Linked DNA regions of Homo sapiens: region 1 is linked to region 2. Evidence: fine-mapped expression QTL. A gene starts in region 2. The other region holds a variant in brackets. All regions are shown on one strand. Distances are from middle to middle.

Region 1 (8,000 bases), 340 kb before region 2:
TGAGTAAGGTTTCGTTGTATGTATATACCACATTTTGTTTATCTGTTCATCTGTTGATGGGCACTGGGATTGGTTCCACCTTTTGGCTATTGTGAATAATGCTGCTGTGGACGTGGGTGTACAAGTATCTGTTCCTGTCCCTGCTTTCAATTCTTTTGGGTATGTACTCAAAAGTGGAATTTCTGGATCATATGGTAATTCTATTTTCAGTTTTTTGAGGGGCTACCATACTGTTTTCCATAGGAGCTACACCATTGGAACACCAACGGTAGTGGCTACTGCTACCCCATTTTACATTCCCACTAACAGTGCACAGGGTTTTAATTTGTCTACGTTCGGATGATAGTTGTTATATTCTGCTTTTTTAATAATAGCCCTCTTAGTCTTTCTTGCTCCAAGTCATCCTCCTTTACCTTCATATCTACTTCATTTCCTTCTCCCTCCTCTTTGCTTTCTTAAGAGCTGTAATGTAAAACAGTTAGTATTTGTTATCTATATGTTAACATATAATTTTATGTTTTAAAAAAATTAAATTTTATTTTAATTTCTGTCTATAGTATTTAAAGTACTAAATTGATTTTTTAATTTTTTTGTGCTCTTCGAGTTTAAAATATTTTTTTAAACTTACGTGGAACCCTAGGAAAGACACTAATACAGCCTCACCACCTAGGCCTGTCATCAGCTGTCACTCCCCACAGCAATAGATATAAGCAGTGAGGAAAAGAGAAATGATTTTCACTTTTTAAGCTGTTCCTTAGGCCGCTGAGAGAGCCTCATCAAGACAGAAGCTCATAAAAACAAATGGGTGCTGGGTGAGGTGGCCCACGCCTGTAATCCCAACACTTTGGGAGGCTGAGGCAGGCAGATTGTTTGAGTCCAGGAGTTGAGACTAGCCTAGGCAACATGGCAAAACCCCATCTCTACAAAAAAGACAAAAAAAAATTAACCAAGTGTGGTGGCATGAGCCTGTAGTCCCAGCTACTTGGGAGGCTGAGGTGGGAGGATCACCTGAGTCTGGGGAGGTAAAGGCTGCAGTGAGCTGTGATGGTGCCGCTGCACTGTAGCCTGGGCGACAGAGCAGAACAGGAAAAAAACAAAAACAAAACAAATGGGGCATGTTGACATTTGCTATGGTAAACACTTACCTGGGTTATTTTTTGGCAAATGAAGAACAATTGTATTAAACATTTTCTTTTGTGAGTTTTAAAGTAGTTTGTTGCATTTCTAGAAGAAATGCCTTGTTGAAATAGCTGATATGGCTACCTCAGAAGTGCCAGGGAGTCAAGCCAGTCCTAATTCAGTGCCTGGGGATGGATTGCACCGGGCTGGTTTTAATGCCTTTATGGCAGGTCATGTGATGGCCTATGTGGGAGTGAGACAGGGACCCCAGCCCTGCAGCTCTGGACCCTGGCTCCCTGAATGCCATAATAAGGTATATTTGAGTGGCAAAGCTGTACCCCTCACAGTGGCCAAGAGCCAGTTCTCCTGTTCCTCCAAAGCCCACACTCAGAAGATAAAGCTGGCTCGGGGCAGCAGCTGACCCAACTTCCACCTACCACTGGGGTGGAATAGAGGTATTTGGGTCTCTCTAGCCTCTCTCTGTAAATGTCATACTCTCAACTAACTACTGAGTTTAGGGGAGGGGGAGTATCCTGGCAGAAATATCACTGCATTGCCCTGGACTTCCTCCTTTACCCCAGTGTCAGAGGTAGAAGGGTACAAGTAAGAAGGCTGACCAACACCTTTAACACTGACTTTATTTATTTTTAAATCTGAAAATGTCTTGGGAAAGTTTTACAAAAAGAAAAAGAGAAATCAACAGAAACAAGTTATGAAAAAAAAACAACGAAAAGAAATGCTTTGTCAATCCATTAGACTTCTTTGTCTAACCAAAGGTTCAAGAATGCAGGTGCTTTTGAGTTTTCCTCTGGCTTTGCCAAAAAATCTCTTTTGCTGTTTTTGCATTACCTAAATAGATCATTCCATTATTATTCCAGAGTATTGTAAAGACTCATAACTTGGATTTTTTTTAACTGTAGACTTTTTTTATTGAAGTGAAATTCATAAAACGTTAAGTTAACCATTTAAAAATAAACAATTCAGGCCCATGCCTGTAATCCCAGCACTTTGAGAGGCCAAGGCCAGGGGGCTTTAGGCCAGCAGTTCAAGACCAGCGTGGGCAATATAGTGAGACCTCATTGCTACCAAAATAATAATTTGCTGGGTTTAGTGGTGTCTAGTTCTAGCTACTCAGGAGGCTGAGGTGGGAGGAAAGCTTGAGCCTAAGTGGTCAAGGCTGCAGTGAGCTGTGATCATGCCGCTGCACTCCAGCCTCAGCAACAGAGCGAGACTGTCTACAAAAAAATGAAAAATAAAAATAAACAAACAATGCAGTGGCATTTAGTACATTCACAATGCTGTGCAACCATCATCTCTGTCTAGTTCCAAAACATTTTTATTACCCCAAACATAACTTTTTGGAAAAAAGAGCTTAGAGTACTGTTCTTAATTGTTTCATTTGCTTATAGTCTGGTATAATGTACTGAATTATAATTATATTTATCTTCAGGTGATTTCAAGTGTCCTATCAAAGAGGAGATAGCAATTACCAGTGGTGAATGGGAAGTTCTTGGCCGGCATGGATCTAATGTATGTTATTTTATTCTACTGATATGTTTGGTCAGTATTACTGTGTGAATGCAGTGCTAAAAATGAGTAATGTAATTTAATATGACCCCGGTATTTTTTTTTCCGAGACAGAGTCTTGCTCTGTCGCCTAGGGCTGGAGTGCAATGGGGTGATCTCGGCTCACTACAACTTCCACCTCCCGGGTTCAAGCAGTTCTCCTGCCTCTGCCTCCCAAGTAGCTGGGATTACAGGCATGTGCCACCACGCCCGGCTAATTTTTTTGTATCTTTAGTAGACACGGGGTTTCACCATGTTGGCCAGGCTGGTCTCAAACTCCTGACCTTGTGATTCGCCCTCCTCAGCCTCCCAAAGTGTTGGGATTACAGGCGTGAGCCACTGCGCCCAGCCGACCCCAGTATTTTTAAAATATTAAGTTACGGCCTAAAATTACTCAAGTTGTTGGAAAGAAATAATCTTAGTTTAAATGATAAATCTCATTTATTTTATAGCCCTTTTATAGATGTGTTCTGATTACCAAAGGTTATTTTCTTTTCTTTTTTGTGAGACAATGTCTTGCTCTGTCACCCTGGCTGTAGTGCAGGGCACAGTCATGGCTCACTGCAGTCTCAACCTCCCAGGCTCAGACGATCCTCCCACTTCAGCCTCTGGAGTAGCTGGGACTACAGGTGTACGCCACCACGACAAGCTAATTTTTAAATTTTTGGTAGAGACAGGGTCTCATATATATTGTCTGGGCTGGTCTCAAACCTAAACACCTACTACACCTAACTATCTACTACTTGCCCCTACATTTATCAGTTTTCTTTCATGTCATGTTTACTTGTGATAGGTTAGTCTGTCTGTCTTCTCTATTTTCCCTCTATTCTTCTTTTTTTTTTTTTTTGGAGATGGAGTCTCACTCTGTCGCCCAGGTTGGAGTGCAGTGGCATGATCTTGGCTTACTGAAACTTCCACCTCCTGGGTTCAAGCAATTCTCCTGCTTCAGCCTCCCGAGTAGCTGGGATTACAGGCACACACCACCATGCCCGGCTAATTTTTGTATTTTTAGGAGAGAGGGTTTCGTCATGTTGGCCATGCTGGTCTTGAATTCCTAGGCTTGAAGGATCCTCCCACCTTGCCACCTCCCAGGTGTGAGCCACTGCGTCCTGCTCACCATTTGCTTTTCTTTTTTGAGACAGGGTCTGACTTTGTCGCCTAGGCTGGATTGCAGTGGCACAATCTTGGCTCACTACAACCTCTGCCTCCTGGGCTCAAGCCTTCCTCCCACCTCAGCCTCCCAGGTAGCTGAGACTACAGGCACACACCACCACACCCAGCTAATTTTTGTATTTTTTGTAGACGGGATTCCGCCATGTTGCCCAGGCTGGTCTCAAACTCCTGAGCTAAAGCAATCCACCTGTCTCGGCCTCCTGAAGTGCTGAGGTTACAGGTGTGAACCACCACGCCTGGCCAAGCCCACCATTTTAAAATGTATTATTGCTCCTTGATGAGAAAGGGGCATATTCATAGTTTTAGAGCCTAGCAAAAGTTGTAAGTTAGCATATGGTTTGAAAAGTAACTTAAAAATCTATTATAGACTACTTGTGTCTACATTATAAATTGCGTTTACTGGCTGGGCACAGTGGCTCACATCTGTAATCCAGCCCTTTGGGAGATGAAGGCTGGAGAATCGCTTGAGGCCAAGAGTTCAGTAACAGTTTGGGCAACATATAAGACCCTGTCTCTGCCAAAAATAAAAAATAAAAAAATTAGCTGGGCATGGTGATGCGCACCTGTAGTCCCAGCTAGTTGGAAGGCTGAGGCAGGAGAATCGCTTGAGTGCAGGAAGTCTAGGCTGCAAATGAATTATGATCACATCACTGCACTACAGCCTGGCTGAAACAGTGATACTCTGGCTCAAAAAAAACCAATAAATAAATAAATAAATAAATTGCATTTACTTCTTCTGAAGTAGTACTTGTCTTTCATTCATGTGTTTATCTTGCCCCACAAATTTAAACTTTAATCCACCACCTGCAAAGAGTGATGGGCATTTATACAGAGCTTAGATTGATAGGGAAAAGGAAGGAAGTCTACCCTGTGTTTTATTCTCAGTACCAATTCAGTGAATTCTTTAAAGAAAAAAAAATTGCGTTTTTGAAGTACCTTGCATTTGTTTCAGCTGTCACTTGGATGATCACATTCATGAGATCTCTAGGAACTCCATCCTGTATGTGTGTGA[C/T]ACATATAGTTGAGGTATGCTGCCAGGATTTAGTGAAGGCCTAACTAAATGTGGTTTCCTCAAATTGACAGGAAGATTTATTGAAGGATTATGTTTACTGGCTACTGTAAAAATCACTTGTAGTCTCTAAAGTGATTAAGGAGACATAATGAAGATCCAGATCCCAGGTTTGTTTTTGTTAGTAAAAACTTTAGAGTATCTGCTGGGCATGGTAGCTCAAACTTGTAGTCCCAACACTTTGGGAGGCCAGTGTCGAGGGATCACTTGTGCCCAGGAATTAGATACCAGCCTGGACAACATAGTGAGACTCCGTCTCTGCAAAAAAAATTTTAAATTAGGCAGGTGTGGTGGGGCATACCTGTAATTGCAGCACTTTGGGAGGCCAAGACAAGAGGATTGCTTTAGCCCAGGAGTTTGAGGTCAGCCTGGGTAACATAGGGAGACTCCATCTCTACCAAAAAAAAAAAAAAAAAATAGGCTGGTTATGGTGGTGCATGCCTATAGTCCCAGTAACTAAGGAGGCTGAGGTGGGAGGATCGCTTTAGCCCGGGAGGTTGAGGCTGCATTGAGCTGTGATCACAATGCTATGCTATAGCCTGGGTGTCAGAATGATACCCGCCTCAAAACAACAGCAACAACAAAAACTTCAGGGTATCAAGACTGACCTTTAAGGTCTCATTTCCACTGAGATCCTCAAGTGGCCTTCTTGTTATATATCCAAATAATTTTTTTCTGTTTTATTTTTGTTTCCAAATATTTTTTTCTGTTGAAGTACCTTGGATATTACTGTCACCTGAGAAAAAAATCTTATTGTGGAATTCTAGGTTCTGAAAACAGAAAACTACACTGATGTAAATTTCGTGCTATGTGATGATTGAAGGATGAGTCATTACATAATGCTGAGGGAACCCCAATAATTGTAATTGCATACATCTGATCCTTATTTGAGTCACCTAAACATCTACTACTTGCCACTACGTTTATCAGTTTTCTTTCATGTCATGTTTACTTGTGATACGTTAGTCTGTCTTTCCCTCTTCTCTATTTTCCCTCTTTTTTTTTTTTTTTGAGATAAGAGTCTCACTCTGTCACCCAGGTTGGAGTACAGTGGCATGATCTCAGCTTACTGCAACTTCCGCCTCCTGGGTTCAAGCAGTTCTCCTGTTTCAGCCTCCCAAGTAGCTGGGATTACAGGCATACACCACCATGCCCAGCTAATTTTTGTATTTTTAGTAGAGACAGGGTTTTGCCATGTTGGCCAGGAGGGTCTTGAACCCGTGACCTCAGGTGATCTGCCCACTTTGGCCTCCCAGAGTGCTAGGATTTCAGGCGTGAGCCACCACACCTGGCCTTTTCCTCTATTCTTTTTTTTTTTTTTTTTTGAGACAAGTCTCATTCTTGTCCCCTAGGCTAGAATGCAATGGTGCGATGTTGGCTCACTGTAACCTCTGCCTCCCAGGTTCAAGCAATTCTCCTGCCTCAGCCCCCTGACTAGCTGGGATTACAGGCACCTGCCACCAAGCCTGGCTAATTTTTGTATTTTTAGTAGAGACGGGGTTTCACCATGTTGGCCAGGCTGGTCTAGAACTCCTGACCTCACGTGATCTGCCCACCTCAGCCTCCCAAAGTACTGGGATTACAGGCGTGAGCCACCATGCCCAGCCCTTTCCCTCTATTCTTGATTTGTTTTTTGACTTAAGTTACCTTTTTCCTTCTCTACTTTTACAAGTGACTGTTCCCACCCAAAGTTGTTTTCTTTTTTCTTTCTTTTTTTTTTTTTTTTTTTTTTTTTGAGACAAGAGTCTCACTCTGTTGCACAGGCTGGAGTGCAGTAGTGCGATCTCAGCTCATTGCAACCTCCGCCTCCTAGGTTCAAGTGATTCTCCTGCTTAAGTCTCGAGTCGCTGGTATTACAGGTGCCCATCACCATGCCCAGCTAATTTTTGTGTTTTTAACAGAGATGGGGTTTTGCCATGTTGGCCAAGCTGGTCTCGAACTCCTGACGTCAGGCAATCCTCTTGCTTTGGCCTCCCAAAGTGCTGGGATTACAGGTGTGAGCCACCACACCTGGCCATCTACCCAAAGATTTCTAATGGCAGTAATTGGGTAAAGCTTTAAGACTTTTAAGCCTATGAGCTTCTTTTTCTTTTTTGAGATGGAGTCTCGCTCTGTCACCCAGGCTGGAGTGCAGTGGTACGATCTCGGCCCACTGCAACCTCTGCCTCCTGAGTTCAAGGGATTCTTATGCCTCAGCCTCCCGAGTAGCTGGGATTATGGGCATCCACTACCACACTTGGCTAATTTTTGTAATTTTTTTTTTTTTTTTTTTTTTTTGAGACGGAGTTTTGCTTTTGTTGCCCAGGCTAGAGTGCAATGGCATGATCTTGGCTCACTGCAACTTCTGCCTCCCAGGTTCAAGCGATTCTCCTGTCTCAGCCTCCTGAGTAGCTGGGATTACAGGTGCATGCCACCATGCCCAGCTAATTTTTGTGTTTTTAGTAGAGATGGGGTTTCACCGTGAGACCAGGCTGGTCTCAAACTCTTGACCTCAAGTGACCTGCCGCCTCCACCTCCCAAAGTTTTGGGATTACAGGCCTGGACCACTGCGCCCAGCTGCCTATGAGCTTTTTATTGTTAAGGGTGGTTCTCAAAGTGCTGGACCAACAGCAAAGTGTCAGCATCACCTGGGAACTTGTTAGAAGTGTACATTCTTGGCTGGGCGCAGTGGCTCATGCCTGTAATCCCAGCACTTTGGGAGGCCGAGGCAGGCGGATCATCTGAGGTCAGGAGTTCGAGACCAGCCTGGCCAACATGGTGAAACCCCGTCTCTACTCAAAATACAAAATTAGCCAGGCGTGGTGGTACATGCCTGTAATCCCAGCTACTCAGGAGGCTGAGGCAGGAGAATCGCTTGAACCTGGGAGACGGAGGTTGCAGTGAGCCGAGATCGCGCCACTGCACTCCAGCCTGGGCAACGAGAGCGAAACTCGGTCTCAAAAAGCAAAAAGAAATGCACATTCTTAGGCCCACCTCTGACATCCTGAATCAAACTCTGGTGGTGGGGCTTAGTAATCTGTTTAACAAGCCCCCCACACAATTATGATACTTCCTTGGATGTTAAGTAGTTACA
Region 2 (17,152 bases):
GACCGATATGGTGAAACCCCGTCTCTACTAAAAATACAAAAATTAGCCGGGCGTGGTGGAGGGCGCCTGTAGTCCCAGCTACTCAGGAGGCTGAGACAGGAGAATTGCTTGAACCCAGGAGGCGGAGGTTGCAGTGAGCCAAGATTGTGCCACTGCACTCCAGCCTGGGAGACAGAGCAAGACTCTGTCTCAAAAAAAAAAAAAAAAAAAAAAAAAAATTAGGCAGGTGTGGTGGCAGGTGCCTGAAGTCCCAGCTACTCAGGAGGCTGAGGCAGGAGAATCGCTTGAACCTGGGAGGTGAAGGTTGCAGTGAGTCAAGATCGCACCACTGCACTCCAGCCTGGGAGACACAGCAAGACTGTCTCAAAAAAGAAAAAAAAAGTAGACCTACAAAACTTAGAAAAAAACACAGGAGAAAATCTTCAGGATCTAAGGATAAGCATCGAGTTCTTGGACTTGACACCAAAAGCACAATCCAGAAAGGGAAAACTGATAAATTGGACTTCATCAAAATTAAGAACTTTTGCTATGCCAAAAGAAAAACCCTGGCCAGGTGCAGTAGCTCATGCCTATATTCCTGGCCTTTGGGAGGGAAAGGTGGGAGAATAGCTTGAGGCCAGGAGTTTGAGATCAGCCTGGGCAAGACCCCCATCTCTACCAAAATTTTTAAAAATTAGCAGGGTATGGTGGTGTCTGCCTGCAGTCCTACCTACCCTAGAAGCTAAGGCGGGGGCCGGGCGCAGTGGCTCACACCTGTAATCCCAGCATTTTGTGAGGCCAAGGCAGGGGGATCACCTGAGGTCAGTATTTGGAGACCAGCCTGATCAACACGGTAAAACCCCATCTCTACTAAAAATACAAAATTAGCCTGGCGTGGTGGCGCATGCCTGTAATCCCAGCTACTCAGGAGGCTGAGACAGGAGAATCGCATGAACCCAGGAGGCAGAGTTTGCAGTGAGCCAAGATCACACCACTGTACTCCAACCTGGGTGACAAAGCAAGGCTCCGTCTCCAAAAATAAAATAAAATAAAATAAAATAAAATAATAAAAATTATAAAAGTAGAGGATAGATTCATGGCTAAGGAGAAGATGGGTTAAGGAAGAGAACTGAATGTGGCTATAAAAGGGCAAATGAGGAATACTGGTAGTGATGGACATGTTTTGTATCAATGTCAATATCCTGACTTTGATAATGTAATAGGACTGCCAGGTTTGTATGCCAGCTACACAGCAATAGACATCTGACATACACTGACAACTGGGTTTGTACTGGAGAGTTTAATTTTTTTCCTTTTTTAAAAATTAAAAATAATTTGCAACACACAACTTTGCTCATGTAGTGAAGAGTTTAATAATCTCAAGATGCCAAACAAGGAAGCAGGAGGAATTCTCAAGCTTGAAATCTGTTTCCTCATAGGGTTCTGGGCAAGGATTTTTAAGGGGGTTGTGGAGGGTGAGGGACTAGAAAATTTGGGGTCATCGATTGGTTGGGTAAAGTGGATGATATGGTTTTGCTCTGTCTCCATCCAAATCTCATCTTGAATTATAAGACCCCACATGTCAAGAGAGGAACCTGGTAAGAGGTGATTGGATCATGGGGGCAGTTTCCTGCATGCTGTTCTGAGAGTGAATTCTCACGAGATTTGGTGGTTTAAAAGTGTTTGGCAGTTCCCCTCCTTGCTCACCCTCTCTCCTGCCACCTTGTGAAGAAGGTGCTTGCTTCTCTTTTGCCTTCTGCCATGATTATAAGTTTCCTGAGGCCTCCCCAGTCATGCAGAACTGTGAGTCAATTAAACCTCTTTATAAGTTACCCAGTCTCCAGTAGTTCTTTATAGCAGTGTGAAAATGAACTAATAGGCCAGGGGCAGTGGTTCGTGCCTGTAATCCCAGCACTTTGGGAGGCCGAGGTGGGTGATCACCTGAGGTCAGGAGTTTGCAACCAGCCTGGCCAACATGGTGAAACCCCATCTTTACTAAAAATAGAAAAATTAGTCGCACATGGTTGGCGGGCGCATGTAATCCCAGCTACTTGGGAGGCTGAGGCAGGAGAATTGCTTGAACCTGGGAGGCAGAAGTTGCAGTGAGCCAAGACTACACCATTGCACTCCAGCCTGGGCAACGAGAGTGAAATTCCATCTCAAAAAAAAAAAAAGAAAAAAGAAAATGAACTAATACAGGGGTTAAAATCAGGATGTGGAAATTTTTCTTTCATTAGTCAGCTTTTTGCTGGGTCCTTCGGACTAGCTGGCATGGTAATTTTGTTGGTATATAGAATCTAAAGGAGATGCTCAATGGAAAAATATATCTAACAATGTCTTAGATTTTATCTATAGAACAGGAAAATAAAAAAGACTTTTGTGAGGACAAGAGCTAGTTATCCTTGGGTAGTAAGAGTAGTGACCAACTACAAGGAACTGGGACAGAAGGCAAGCCGACTTAATGATTGTTGTTGATTGTGCTATAAGCCTACTTAGATTTTATTTTGCCTCCTATTGATTTTATAAACCGTTGCAGGTGAGCAGTGACTATCTGAGGCCAGTATCAGTGTGGGCAGTAAGAAGAATTTACCAAGACAGTTGTAGGTAAAGAAAGGCAGATTTATGAAAGAAAGTATGAAAATACATTGCAAGAGTGCAAGGGGCTGGTTAGCAAGAGAGGAGCTAACTGTGAGGAGACAAAGGCTTGCTGGGGATTTTATAGAATGGTGCTTGTGCTGTGTGCTGAAGAGGGCTTTGTGCAGTACTGATTACTGCAACCAAGGTTGCAGTTAGCTAACTTGCATTTTTCTATAAGCCAAGGGTCTGGTGATAGCTGGGCACAGGAAGATTGTGAGATATGAGCGCAGGAGGGCTATGTGTCCTGAACCATGAAGAAAGGCAGACTTGTAGCTTATCTGCCTTTCCTTTTTGCTCTCCCTCAGTCCTGCCAGCCCCACTCCTTTTCCCTAAACTCCACAAAAAGTTTTTTTAGGGATGGTTTTATGACAGGAAAATATCTTGGGCCCCTAAGATCACTAAGGAAAACTCAGGCTGGAAACTGCTTAGGGCAAACCTGCCTCCATTCTATTCAAAGTCAATTATCTGCTCACTGAGATAGATGCACATCTGATTTGCCTCCTTTGGAAAGGCTAATCAGAAATTCAACAGAATGTAACCATTTGTGTATCACCTGTGACCTGGAAGCGCCCTCCCCGCTTCAAGTCTTCCTGCCTTTGCTTCAAGTTGTCCCACCTTTCCAGACTGAACCAATGTACTTACAAATACTAACTGATGTCTCATGTCTCCCTAAATGTATAAAAGCAAGCTGTGCCCTGACCGCCTTGGACACGTCATCAGGACTTCCTGAGGCTGTGTCACAGGTGCGTCCTCAACCTTTTTTTTTTTTTTCCCTCCCTGAGAGGAGTCTTGCTCTGTTGCCCAGGCTGGAGTGCAGTGGTGTGATCTTGGCTCACTACAACATCCACCTCCCGGGTTCAAGCAATTTTCCTGCCTCAGCCTCCTGAGTAGCTGGGATTGCAGGTGTATGCAACCACAGCCGGCTAATTTTTGTATTTTTTTTTTTTTTTTTTTTTTAGTAGAGATGAGGTTTCACCATGTTGGCCAGGGTGGTCTCAAACTCCTGACCTCATGATCCACCTGCTTCAGCCTCCCAAAGTGCTGGGATTACAGCCACCACACCTGGCCAGCAAAATAAACTTTCTAAATTAACTGAGACCTGTCTCAAATTTGGGGGGTTTACAGTTTCAATATTGTTACTGGAAAGGGGTCCCAATCCAGATCCCAAGAGAGGGTGATATGATTTGGCTCTGTGTCCCCACCCAAATCTCATCTTGAATTGTACTCCCGTAATTCCCATGTGTTGTGGGAGGGACCCAATGGGAAATAACTGAATCATGGGGGTGGTTCCCCCCATACTGTTCTCATGGTAGTGAATAAGTCTTATGAGATATGATAGTTTTATAAAGAGGAGTTTCCCTCCACAAGCTCTCTTTCTGCCTGCTGCCATCCATGTAAGATGTGACTTGCTCCTCCTTGCCTTCCGCCATGATTGTGAGGCCTCCTCAGCCATGTGGAACTGTAAGTCCATTAAACCACTTTCTTTTGTAAATTGCCCAGTCTTGAATATGTCTTTATCAGCAGCGTGGAAACAGACTAATACAGTAAATTGGTACCCGTAGAGTGGGGCACTGTTTAAAAGATACCCAAAAATGTAGAAGCAACTTTGAAACTGGGTAACAGGCAGAGGTTAACAGTTTAGAGGGCTCAGAAGACAGGAAAATGTGGGAAAGTTTGGAACTCCCTAGAGACTTGTTGAACGGCTTTGACCAAAATGCTGATAATGATATGGACAATGAAATCCAGGCTGAGGTGGTCTCAGATGGAGATGAGAAACTCATTAGGAACTGGTGCAAGGGGGACTCTTGTTATGTTTTAGCAAAGAGACTGGCAGCATTTTGCTTCTGCCTTAGAGATTTGTGGAACTTTGAACTTAGGAGAGATGACTTAGGGTATCTGGCAGAAGAAATTTTTAAGCAGCAAAGCATTCAATAAGTGACTTGGGTGCTGTTAAAGGCATCAAGTTTTAAAAGGGAAATAGAACATAAAAGTTCAAAAAATGTGCAGCCTGACAATGCCATAGAAAAGAAAATCCCATTTTCGGAGGAGAAATTCAAGCCAGCTGCAGAAATTTGCATAAGTAACGAGGAGTTGAATGTTAATCTCCAAGACAATAGGGAAAATGTCTCCAGGGCATGTCAGAGATCTTTGCGGCAGCCCCTCCCAACACAGGCCCAGAGGCCTAGGAGGAAAAAATGGTTTCATGACCCAGGCCCAGGGTCCCGCTGCTGTGTGCAGTCTAGGGACTTGGTGCCCTGTGTCCCAGCCACTCCAGTCGTGACTAAAAGGGGCCAAGGTACAGCTTGGGCTGTGGCTTCAGAGGGTGCAAGCCCCAAGCCTTCACAGCTTCCACATGGTGTTGAGCCTGCGGGTGCGCAAAAGTCAAGAATTGAGGTCTGGGGCCGGGTGCACTGGCTCACGCCTGTAATCCCAGCATTCCAAATGATTGTGAGGCCTCCCTAGCCATGTGGAACTGTAAATCCATTAAACCTTTTTCCTGTATAAATTACCCAGTCTCAGGTATGTCTTTATTAGCAGCATGAAAACAGACTAATACAGAGGGTCCTTGGATCTTGTGCAAGAAAGATTTCAGGGCAAGTCCACAGTGCAAAGCAAAAGCAAGTTTATTAAGAAAGTAAAGTGGTGAAAGAATATCTACTCCATAGACAGTAGGGCGTTCCTGAAAGTAAGAGGAGAAACGTGTCCACCCTAGGTAGAATGCTTGCTTATATATAGGATAAAAAAAGATCATGGGGAGATGTGCTCTGCCACAAGGGTTTGTGATAAAGGATTAATTTTTTAAATTACTATATTTTACAAGAATCAACATTATTATCTTTAAAGCAAAATTAGGAATGCTTCTATTCTCAAAATATCGGGATCTCAGGACACTCCTAAGTACGGGTCTGTTTAGTAAATGTTATTAGTCTGTTCCCTTAACCATAAACATCTAGAGGCTAGGAATACCTAACTTCCTGGGAATGCAGCCAAGCAAGTCCCAGCTTCACTTTTCCTAGCCCTCACTCAAGATGGAGTCACTCTGGTTCAAATGCCTCTGACAATACTGTACTACAGTTTTACAAGATGTTACCCTTAGGGGAAACTGGGTAAAGGGTACACAGAATCTCCCTGTATTACTACTTCTCATATTCCATATGAATCTACAATTGTCTCAAAATAGTTTAATTTTAAAAATCTAATCAGGTGGCACAGGCTTCTCTTTACCTCTTGTTTAAAACCAATAGTTTCCCACTGGTCACAGTGGCTCACGCCTGTAATCCCAGCACTTTGGGAGGCTGAGGCAGGCAGATCACCTGAGATCAGGAGTTCGAGACCAACCTCAACAGGGAGAAACCACGTCTCTATTAAAAATACAAAATTAGTCGGGCATGGTGGTGTGTGCCTGTAATCCCAGCTACTCAGGAGTCTGAGGCAGGAGAATTGCTTGAACCTGGGAGGTGGCGGTTGTGGTTAGCCGAGATCGCGCCATTGCACTCCAGCCTGGGCAACAAGAGTGAGACTTGGTCTCAAAACAACAACAACAACAACAAAATAGTTTCCCATTGTTCATAAGATATGAGACCCCAGACATTAGGACTTCACTTCACCAGGATCACCAGACTCCTCTCAGAGCTCCATCCATAACTCGCATTCTTTTTTTTTTTTGGAGACAAGGTCTCGCTCTGTCTCCCAGACTGGAGTTCAGTGGTGTGATCTCGGCTCACTGCAACCTCCACGTCCTGGGTTAAAGCAATTCTCCTGCCTCAGCCTCCCCAGTAGCTGGGATTACGGGCACGCACCACCACACCTGGCTAATTTTTGTGTTTTAGTAGAGACAGGAATTCACCATATTGCCCAGGCTGGCCTTGAACTCCTGAGCTCAGGCAATCCACCCGCCTCGGCCTCCCAAAGTGCTGGGATTACAGGCCAAAACTGGCATTCTATCAGGCTTCCCACTAGACATAGTCCTGTAACCTAAGGCAGGTCCAGTTCCCTGCAGCTTGCAAATTCAAATAACAAGTAAGAGAATGGTAAAAAGAAAGTGACTGCCACGGGCACGGTGGCTCACGCCTGTAATCCCAACATGATCCAAGGCAGGCGGATCATGAGGTCAGGAGATCGAGACCATCCTGGCTAACATGGTGAAACCCCATCTCCACTAAAAATACAAAAAAATTAGCCAGGCATGGTGGTGGGCACCTGTAATCCCAGCTACTCGGGAGGCTGAGGCAGAAGAATGGCATGAACCCAGGAGGCAGAGCTTACAATGAGCCAAGATCACGCCACTGCACTCCAGCCTGGGCGACACAGGGAGACTCTGTCTCATAAAAAAAAAAAAAGAAAGAAAGTGGCCAGGTGTGGTGGCTCACACCTGTAACCCCAGCACTTTGGGAGGCCAAGGTGGACGGATCACCTGATGTAAGGAGTTTACGACCAGCCTAGCCAGCATTGTGAAACCCCCTCTCTACTAAAAACACAAAAATTAGCCAGGCGTGGCAGCAGGGGTCTATAATCCCAGCAACTGACTAGGGAGGCTGAGGCACCAAGAATAACTGGAACCTGGGATGCAGTGGTTGCAGTGAGTGGAGAGTGCGTCATTGCACTCCAGCCTGGGTGACAGAGGGACTCTGTCTCAAAAAAAGTGGGGGGTGCACGGGACTTGGTTGACCTGGATGGCATGCAAGGGGTGGGGAGGGACCAAGGAGGTGCTGGGTCTATGGGACTTGCTCCTATGTATCCATCAGTGATCTGGTTGGCGCCATGGAGGCTGGGGCGAAGGCGGAGGGGGGGTGGGGGGTAGCGGGGAGCTAGGTTGTAAATTGACAGTTGTCCCCAGGCAATCCCCTGGTATGGGAAAGTTCCAGAGGTCCCTGGTTTAAGCTTCGGTCCTTGGAACTAATAAGCGAACACATAATTAGATAAGCTTACAGTGTAGAGAGTGTCTGGTGGAGAGAAGGTAAAGGTTAATTGGATTTTTTTTTTTGACAGGTGTCATTCTGTCGCCCAGGGTGGAGTGCAGTGGCGTTATCGTGGCTCATTGCAGTCTTTACCTCCCAGGGCTCAGGTGATCCTCCCACCTCAGCCTCCCCAATGGCTGGGACTACAGGCCGATCTCGCCTGCCTCGGCCTCCCAAAGTGCTGGGATTACAGACGTGAGCCACAGCACCCACCCTATAATTGCATTCCTAAAGAGCTAAATAGGAGGTGGGGTGAAAGGAGAAAAGTAAAAATAATTCATTTTTCTAAGAAAATGGGTAGTTGGTCACACTCCTATTTACTAGGGCCTTTGCACATGTTCTCATCTGCACTGTGCTTCCCTCTCTTTTTCTATTTAACTATTTATCTTCCAGATCTCAGCTGCAGCCGCAGTTTCTTAGGATAACCTTCTCCAACTTCTCGAAGATACTCACCATGATTAATTGATTAGTGTGTTATACTAGGCAGATAGTTCCACGAAGAGAAGCTCTGTATCTCTCAGTCTCACTGTATGCGGAGTGGGTAGCTCTGCACCTAGGATGCTCAATAAGAACGGTATTTATGAACTGAACGACAGAAGGTTGAACGACTGCCCACTTATGCACTGAGCCTTCCGGAGGGACGAGTCTACAGGGGTCGCGCGTCGTAACGACGTCACTTCCGTCGGAAGGTTCTCATGAGGAGCCACTCAGATTCCTGTCACTTCTCAAAGCATCTCCGTCGTGAACATGGCCCTGCCACCATTCTTCGGCCAGGGTCGCCCAGGCCCACCGCCCCCGCAGCCGCCGCCTCCTGCTCCTTTCGGCTGTCCGCCACCGCCGCTGCCCTCCCCGGCTTTCCCGCCGCCTCTCCCCCAGCGGCCCGGCCCTTTTCCGGGGGCCTCCGCCCCCTTCCTTCAGCCTCCGCTGGCTCTGCAGCCCCGAGCCTCCGCGGAGGCCTCCCGCGGCGGAGGCGGCGCTGGCGCCTTCTACCCGGTGCCACCACCGCCGCTGCCTCCTCCGCCGCCCCAGTGTCGGCCCTTCCCGGGGACCGACGCCGGCGAGCGGCCGCGGCCACCGCCTCCCGGCCCGGGGCCGCCCTGGAGCCCGCGGTGGCCTGAGGCGCCGCCGCCGCCGGCCGACGTGCTCGGGGATGCGGCCCTCCAACGCCTGCGCGACCGGCAGTGGCTGGAGGCGGTGTTCGGGACCCCGCGGCGGGCAGGCTGTCCGGTGCCCCAGCGCACGCATGCCGGGCCCAGCCTTGGCGAAGTGCGCGCGCGATTGCTCCGGGCTCTGCGCCTGGTGCGGCGGCTGCGCGGCCTGAGCCAGGCCCTGCGCGAGGCCGAAGCCGACGGCGCGGCCTGGGTCCTGCTGTACTCCCAGACCGCGCCGCTGCGCGCGGAACTGGCCGAGCGGCTACAGCCGTTGACCCAGGCTGCCTATGTGGGCGAGGCGCGGAGGAGGCTGGAGAGGGTCCGGCGCCGCCGGCTGCGGCTTCGCGAGAGGGCCCGGGAACGCGAGGCCGAGCGGGAGGCAGAGGCCGCGCGGGCAGTGGAACGCGAGCAGGAGATTGACCGCTGGAGGGTGAAGTGTGTGCAGGAGGTGGAGGAGAAGAAGCGGGTGAGAGCAGCGGCCGCTCATGGGGGTAGGAGTGGTGGTGGTTGGAACCTGGAGCAGCAGGAGGCTTTAAACTTCCATTTCCCAGGGCTAAGCCTCTGTTTTACGCGCAAAATGAAGCGATAGCTAACCTTCCCAGCTCATACCACCATGTTAATTTTGTGTTAATGATGTGTGGTACACAAAAGTTCCAGGTGCACTGTAAAATCCTGTAAACACAAAGTATAGGATTACACGGTGGCACTGCACGAATGACAGGTCTCCCCTATCCTGCTCCAACATTGTCCACTTACTCTCAAAACCAGTAAGTGTCTAGTTCCTTGTGTCTTGTACTGCCCTAGGTGGTTTTAAGAATACAAAATACAGGCCGGGCGCGGTGGCCCACGCCTGTAATCCCAGCACTTTGGGAGGCGGAGGCGGGTGGATCACGAGGTCAGGAGTTCAAGACCAGCCTGGCCAAGATGGTGAAACCCCGTCTCTACTAAAAATACAAAAATTAGCCATGCGTGGTGGCGGGCGCCTGTAATCCCAGCTACTCTGGAGGCGGAGGTTGCAGTGAGCCGAGATCGCACCACTGCATTCCAGCCTGGGCGACAGAGCAAGACTCCGTCTCAAAAAAAAAAAAAATAGAGAACTTGGGGACCCTACCTCAAGGAATATATATACTCTAATTAGCTGATGGGGCAATAGTGATTTCCCTAGGATTCTTTTGTTTACAAGTTTTAAACCATGTATCCCCAGGTTCAGCAATGGTGTTTCGGAGCATTTACTATATATATATATATATATACACATACATACATATATATACACATACATATATGTATGTGTATATATATGTATGTATGTGTATGTGTGTATATATATGTATGTATCTGTGTATATATAGAGAGAGGTGTGCTAAGGTCATTACATATACCAGATTTTGAATCTTTATAACAGCCTTGAGAAGTAGGAAGTATTATGCTAATTTTACAGGTTAGGAAGTTGCATAGAGAGGTTAACTTGCCAACAGTCACACAACGAGTTTGTGGCAGTTTCCCATATTTGATCCCAAGTTGTCTAATTCCAAAGCGTATTGATCTCAGACTCTTTAAGCAGGGCCAGGGTAAAACTGGAAATTGTTCAGATGGTTTTCTAAGGCATTTTCTTTCTTTCTTTTTTTGAGATGGAGTTTCGCTCTTGTTGCCCAGGCTGGAGTGCAATGGCATGATCTTGGTTCACCACAACCTCCACCTCCCGGGTTCAAGCGATTCTCCTGCCTCAGCCTCCCGAGTAGCAGGGATTACAGGCATGCACCACTACACCCCAGCTAATTTTGTATTTTTAGTAGAGACAGGGTTTCTCCATGTTGGTCAGACTGGTCTCGAACTCCTGACCTCAGGTGATCCACCCGCCTCAGCCTGCCAAAGTGCTGGGATTACAGGCGTGAGCCACTGCACCTGGCCGTCTAAGGCATTTTCATTACCTTTGATTGCCTCTGGGGTTCCCTTTCCTCTTCCTCATTATTTCTATTATTATTACATTATAATACATAATGAAATAATTATACAACTCACCATAATGTGGAAACAGTGAGAGCCCTGAGATTGTTTTCCTGCAACTAGACAGTCCCATCTGGGGGTGATAGGAGACAGTGACAAATCATCAGGCTTTAGATTCTCATAAGGAGCCCACAACCTAGATCCCTTCCATGCGCAGTTCACTTCTTTGTGCTCCTATGAGAATGTAATGCTGCTGTTGCTGATCTGACAGGAGGCGGAGCTCAGGTGGTAATGCAAGCAATGGGGGAGTGGCTGTAAATGGAGATGAAGCTTCACTTGCTCGCCTGCCTCATCTTTTGCTGTGTGATCTGGTTCCTAACAGGCCATGGACTGGTTACCATCCGTGGCCTGGGGTTTGTTGACCCCTGGCTTAGAGATCTGTGGGAGATCATGTCAGTATAGCGTGGTGTGTGTTAGGAATTCAACTATAGGTGCTGTAAAAGCCCAAAGAAGGAACATCTGATTTACTGAGGGAATGCTTCCCAAATGATACAATGACACGTAAGCTGAGTCTTTTTTTTTTTTTCTGAGACAGAGTCTCGCACTGTTGCCCGGACTGAAGTGCAGTGATGCCGTCTTGGCTCGCTGCAACCTCTGCCTCCCAGGTTCAAGCGATTCTCCTGCCTTAGCCTCCAGAGTAGCTGGGATTACAGGTGCACACCACCACTCCTGGCTATAAGCTGAGTCTTAAAGGAAAAGTCACCCAGGTGAAGGTAATAGGTGCAGTTCCAGGGAAACAGAGTAATCCAAATGGAGAAGTGAAACAGCTTGGTGTTGGCTGTAGCTGTAGTGGTGGAATTACAGGCACTTATTTGACAGATGGGGGAGAGCACTTTAGGCAAGAGGATTCTCTCCACCACCCATGGTGAACTTTTTATTTTATTTATTTTATTGTTTTAAGGAGACAGGGTTGGGGCTGGGCGCCGTGGTCATGCCTGTAATCCCAACACTTTGAGAGGCCAAGGCGGGCGGATCACCTGAGGTCAGGAGTTCGGGACCAGCCTGGCCAACGTGGTGAAACCCTGTCCCTACTAAAAATACAAAAAATTAGCTGGGCATGGTGGCAGGAGCCTGTAAACCCAGCTAATTGGGAGGCTGAAGCAGGGAATCGCTTGAACCCAGGAGGCGGAGGTTGCAGTAAGCCGAGATCGCGCCATTGCCCTCCAGCCTGGACAACAGCGAGACTCCATCTCAAAAAAAAAAAAAAAAAAAAAAAGAGGGTTGGGGGCGGGTGCGAAGTGGCTCACTCCTGTAATCCCAGCATTTTGGGAGGCTGAGGCAGGCAGATTACTTGAGCCCAGGAGTTCCAGACCAGCCTGGGCAACATGGAGAAACCTCGTCTCTACAAAAAACACAATTAACTGGGCATGGTGATGCTGTGATCACACCACTACACTCCAGCCTGGGCAACAGAATGAGACCCTGTCTCAAAAAAAAAAAAAAAAAAAAAAAAAATACAAAGTTTCACTCTGTTGCCCAGGCTGGAGTGCAGCGGGTTTGTCATAGCCTGTAGGTTTGAACTCCTGGTCTTAAAGTGATCCTCTCGCCTTAGCCTCCTGAGTAGGAATAGCTAGGGACACATGCCATTATGCCCAGCTTCCATGGTGAGGATATTGGTGACAGAGTCTTATGAGGAGTGGCTTGAGGAACTGGGGTTATTTAGTCTATATGTGAACTAAGTCAAGAGTAGGACAGCAATCTTTGGTATTTGAAAGGCTGTCATGTGGAAGAGATCCTTGGGACTTTAGAGCAGTGGAACACAAACATAGGTTGTCACTAAGAGACCTTTGTAGAGGTCTCAGCCTTTCCAGCCACATTCCTTATCCTTCCTGGGAATCTGAATCTTCAGGTCTAGGGAATCTGCATTTTTAACAAGTCTCAGCTTAACAAGGTAAGTTGGACACCTGATCTCTGCACTACACTTTGAGAAACACTGAGGAAGAAACAAAACCAGTGCTATGTGGAAGATACAGAGAGGAGAGGTTCTCCTTTAAGATGAAGGTTGTACCATCAGTGGAGGGGGATAACCTCTTAGCTAGAGGGGAGTTGTGCAAGGCCTAAGAAATTGGGATGGAGATTCAATAGAGTCTCTCTTAACCTGGAGACTGTCTGATCCTTTAAAATCTAACCACTGGGCAGCTATTCTCTGCTGTAAGTTTGTTCCTAATACGAGGTCTCATGGGCTTTGTTTCTCTTCCAGGAGCAGGAACTCAAAGCAGCCGCTGATGGCGTACTATCTGAAGTGAGGAAAAAACAAGCAGATACCAAAAGAATGGTGGACATTCTACGGGCTTTGGAGAAATTGAGGAAACTGAGGAAAGAGGCTGCAGCGAGGAAAGGTAACTGTGGCTTTGCATTTCTTTCCTTGTTCCCTTCCCCTTCTTTACTCTAGCTCCTCCCACCCCAAATATTATTGAGGGAAAAATACTTGAAACTTCATGATTTTCACCTTGTCGGGTAACTGGGCTTGTCAGCAAGTAGGTCAGAACTTCTGAAGCAGGAAGCCTCAGAAGATGTTTAGCCTGTGGTAGCCCAGATTGAAAAGAGAGGCAAGTGTGGGAACCCACTGCACTGTCTTCCCCTTGACTTATCATTCCTACCCTGGGCATTTCTGGCCACACTCTTCTGAGTGGGCTTGTCATGGCTAGTCACCTTTGCCTTGTGCCAGAGTGAAAGCTTTTCACCCTTACTTGTTGCTCCAGAAAGTGTTGAAAACTTGGCATGCTTCTTCAGATACATTTCAAACCTGAATTATTTCTATTTGAAGAGGTATGAATGGTTGGACAGGGCAGGGATTGCAGACTGTGTGGATTTCCCCACCTTCCCTTCATGTCACTGGTCTCTTCTTGCCTCTGGAGGAAGCACCAGACACTATAGCCAGGCAGTTCAAGCTTCTCCACCGAAGTTTGTTTCAACCATGCTGGCTTTCTAGAAGTTACCCAATTGTGCTTTCCATTTGCCTGTCTGGATCTTAGCTGTTGTCATTCTGTTCATCTGGAGGGCCCTCAGTCCCATCTTTGCCATTTTAAGATCTCACTATTCAAAACCAAATACACATGCAGCATCCTTCATCCTTCCCTGATCTGGGCTGAGGTAACCTCCTGTTGCTTCTCACTTGCACCTGCTTTGGACCACATGCTGATTTATTTAGTAGATTGTAGGCCTTTGGTATTCACCAGAGATATTTGAGAGTGTACAAATTAGCAAATGCCACTCTAACAAATGATTTCCCATGTGTTGTTTAAAATGTAAATGAAAACTGGGATTCTTTTAGACCCTTAAGAAAGTTGTGTTGGAATATGACCATTTTGTATTCACCCAGGCTCGTTTGCTAGCTAAGTGATTGGCTTTTGCATACTAGCCTTCAGAGCGGCTAATTCACATCCAGACCTCAGAAACAGATGCCTCCATTGTGGTACTCTCAGGGCATTTGTAAATCAGAGGGAAGTTAGCATCTGCTTTGTCTACCCATCTCTTTTTCACTAGAAGGCAAAACCTGAGAGCTATTTAATATTCCCACACCTCACATCCTCTATGAGGTGAGTGCTCAGTAAACTTCTGCCAAGTGAATTTACCAGCATTTCCCAATATTAATCTTCCTCACTTTGGTCCAAAAGGAGGAGGAAATTTTAGGAAAATCATTATCTATAGAAATAAACAGACTTTGTGGCATTAAGTGACTTGAATGTAAAATGATTTGGTAAGTAGCAGCTGGTTGCATGCATATTTAAAATGAGCAGCTAACTTCTCTCTTCAAGATGTGTGCACCTCCAACTAAGTGCTGAATGATGAGGCTGGATGTTTAAGCAGGACCACGTTGCAAATTGTCTTATGGGCTATGCTAGAGTTCTCACTTATACTTAAAGCTTTGGGGAACCGCTGAAAGTTTTTTTTTTTTTTTTTTTTTGAGACGGAGTCTCGCTCTGTCGCCCAGGCCGGACTGCGGACTGCAGTGGCGCAATCTCGGCTCACTGCAAGCTCCGCTTCCCGGGTTCACGCCATTCTCCTGCCTCAGCCTCCCGAGTAGCTGGGACTACAGGCGCCCACCACCGCGCCCGGCTAATTTTTTGTATTTTTAGTAGAGACGGGGTTTCACCTTGTTAGCCAGGATGGTCTCGATCTCCTGACCTCATGATCCACCTGCCTCGGCCTCCCAAAGTGCTGGGATTACAGGCGTGAGCCACCACGCCTGGCCCCGCTGAAAGTTTTTAAGTGAAATGATGGCAAAGATCAGTGCCAGTAGAGCAGAGAAAGTTTTGGAGCATCCAGGAGAGAGAGAGAAGGGCAGAGAGATGGGTAAGGCTATTGGGCACGGGTAGTATGGAAGCATAAGCTGAGTGACGTCAGTGTGTAGGAGAATTGAGAGGTAATGAGTAATTCAAGTGATAGTGAATAATTGAGTAATTCAGAATTATTAGTGAATAATTCTCAAGTCAAAGAATTGAGAGATAATGAATAAAGGTATATGTGTATATACCCATGTACATATAAATAAATAATTTAAGGAACTCAGAGTACAGGAACTAAAGGGAAAAACAATGAAATGTCTTCCAGATTCTAGCCTCATCTACTGAATAAGTGAAGATAGCTTTTTTTTTTTGCTTTTTTTTTTTTTAAAAGACAGGGTCTTGCACTGTCGCCCAAGCCGAAGTGCAGTGGTGCAATCATAATTCACTGCAGCCTTATACTCCCAGGCAGGAGCGATCCTCCCACCTCAGCCTCCTGAGTAGTAGAGACTACAGGTGCACACCACCACACCTGGCTAATTTTTAAATTTTTTGTAGAGATAGAGTTTCGCCATGTTGCCCAAGCTGGTCTCGAACTCCTGGGCTCAAGCGATTCTCCCATCTTGGCCTCCCAAAGTTCTAGGATTAAGGGTGTGAGCCACTGTGCCTGGCCGATACCATTCTAATTAAGAAGGAAAACAAGGGAGGAGGAACAGGTTTAGGGTTGACAAGTTCAGTTGGGGACCTGTCGAGTTTGAGGTGTGTGTGGTACATCCTGGATAAGAGTTCATTAGCATGTAGCCATGAGTCAGAATGACCTTAAGGAGATTGTACAGCATGAGATGAGGGCCAAAAAGACAAAATCATAGGGAATGTCAAAATCAAGGTAGAAGATGAAGAGAGCAAAAAAGAGACCAAGAGAGGTCAGAGAGATGGGAGGAAAAGATAGACTCCCTGCTTCCTTCTGGAAAGTGGCAAGTGCTTAGAGAGAGATTGTGTAGTCTTGGTGATATGGTTTGGCTGTGTCCCCACCCAAATCTCATCTTGAATTGTAGCTCCCATAATTCCCACATGTCGTCGGAGGGACTTGGTGGGAGGTAATTGAATCATGGGGACAGGTCTTTCACATGCTGTTCTTGTGATCATAAGTCTCATGAGATCTGATGGATTTATAAAGGAGAGTTTCCTTGCACACGCCCTCTTTACCTGTCACCATGTAAGATATAACTTTGCTCCTCCTTCACCTTCCGCCATGATTGTGAAGCCTCCCCAGCCATGTAGAACTGTGAGTCAATTAAACCTCTTTTATAAATTACCCAATTTCAGGTATATCTTTATTGGCAGCGTGAGAATAGATTAATACACTTGGACAGGTTACTTGAGCTTCTCTGAACCTTTGTTTCCTCATCTGCAAAAAGGGAGTAATGATAGTACCTACCCATGGGGTGTCGTGAGGATTAAATTAATAAATATGTGTAAAGTACTTAAAACAGTCCTGGCACATAGTAAATGCTATATACATGTTTCATATTATTATTCTTTTTATTATCAAGAAATAAGGAACATCCATGGGAATTAGTATCCAACCGGTCATTAGTGACCTATGCTAGGGGCATTTCAGTGGAGTGGTGGGGGTAGAAGCCAGACTACAGTTGGTTAGAGAATGAATATGATACAAGAAAAGCAAACAGATAATTCAACTTATTAAAAGATTGCCTGTGAAGAAAAGGAAAGAGCAACATCAGTATCTGGCAAGGTGTGTGGTAGTGGTGATGGTGAGGGGTGTTGTGTGTCTTTGGGTCATGGGGAAAACTTAAGCATGGTTAAAATTGCTGAGAGGAGTGAGTAGAAGGGGAAGGGTCAAAGAGAAGCAGGAAGAATAGTTGATGGCTCAAGGTCCCATGGAAGGTAGGATGATTCAGATCCCAGGTGGAGGGATTAACTTAAGTGAAGAAGGACCCATCTTACACAAGCATGAAAATGAAGGAGATGAAGATAGGTAGTGATGCACATGAGTGTGTAAATGGGGACAGATATTTGAGGGATTTCCTGTCTGCTGGCCTGTTTTCTCTGGGAAACAGGGTAAATGGTTTGCTGAGCGCCAGTAGACAAGTGGGGCTTTAGGAGAGCAGTGAAGGTTTGATTTAATTGCTGTGAAGAATGGGTGAGAGCCAACAGAGACTTGTGGAAGATG

Alleles and levels. Alleles are on the strand shown, and positions count from the first base shown. SD is a standard deviation of normalised expression in the study named.
For the expression in tibial artery of the gene that starts at base 8,295 in region 2, allele T in region 1 goes with a higher level than allele C (large effect, 0.81 SD a copy in GTEx).

The links. PIP is the estimated chance that this variant, and not a neighbour inherited with it, causes the effect.
Region 1: its variant is the best candidate, but not a certain one, in a credible set for the expression of PDCD7 in tibial artery (GTEx, PIP 0.75).

Annotation. Positions count from the first base shown.
Region 1 is chr15:65,468,858-65,476,857 of GRCh38, reverse strand. It overlaps DPP8 (dipeptidyl peptidase 8), which reads left to right. Exons shown (of 20, transcript NM_130434.5): 12 at 2,570-2,649. Among named protein-coding and RNA genes, the nearest start is that of DPP8, 45 kb to the left of the region's middle. The variant C/T (reference allele first, on the strand shown) is at 4,871.
Region 2 is chr15:65,124,951-65,142,102 of GRCh38, reverse strand. It overlaps PDCD7 (programmed cell death 7), which reads left to right and starts at 8,295. Exons shown (of 5, transcript NM_005707.2): 1 at 8,295-9,191; 2 at 12,933-13,071. The coding sequence starts at 8,322. RefSeq lists an enhancer at 8,010-8,109 and silencers at 8,400-8,609, 8,670-9,069.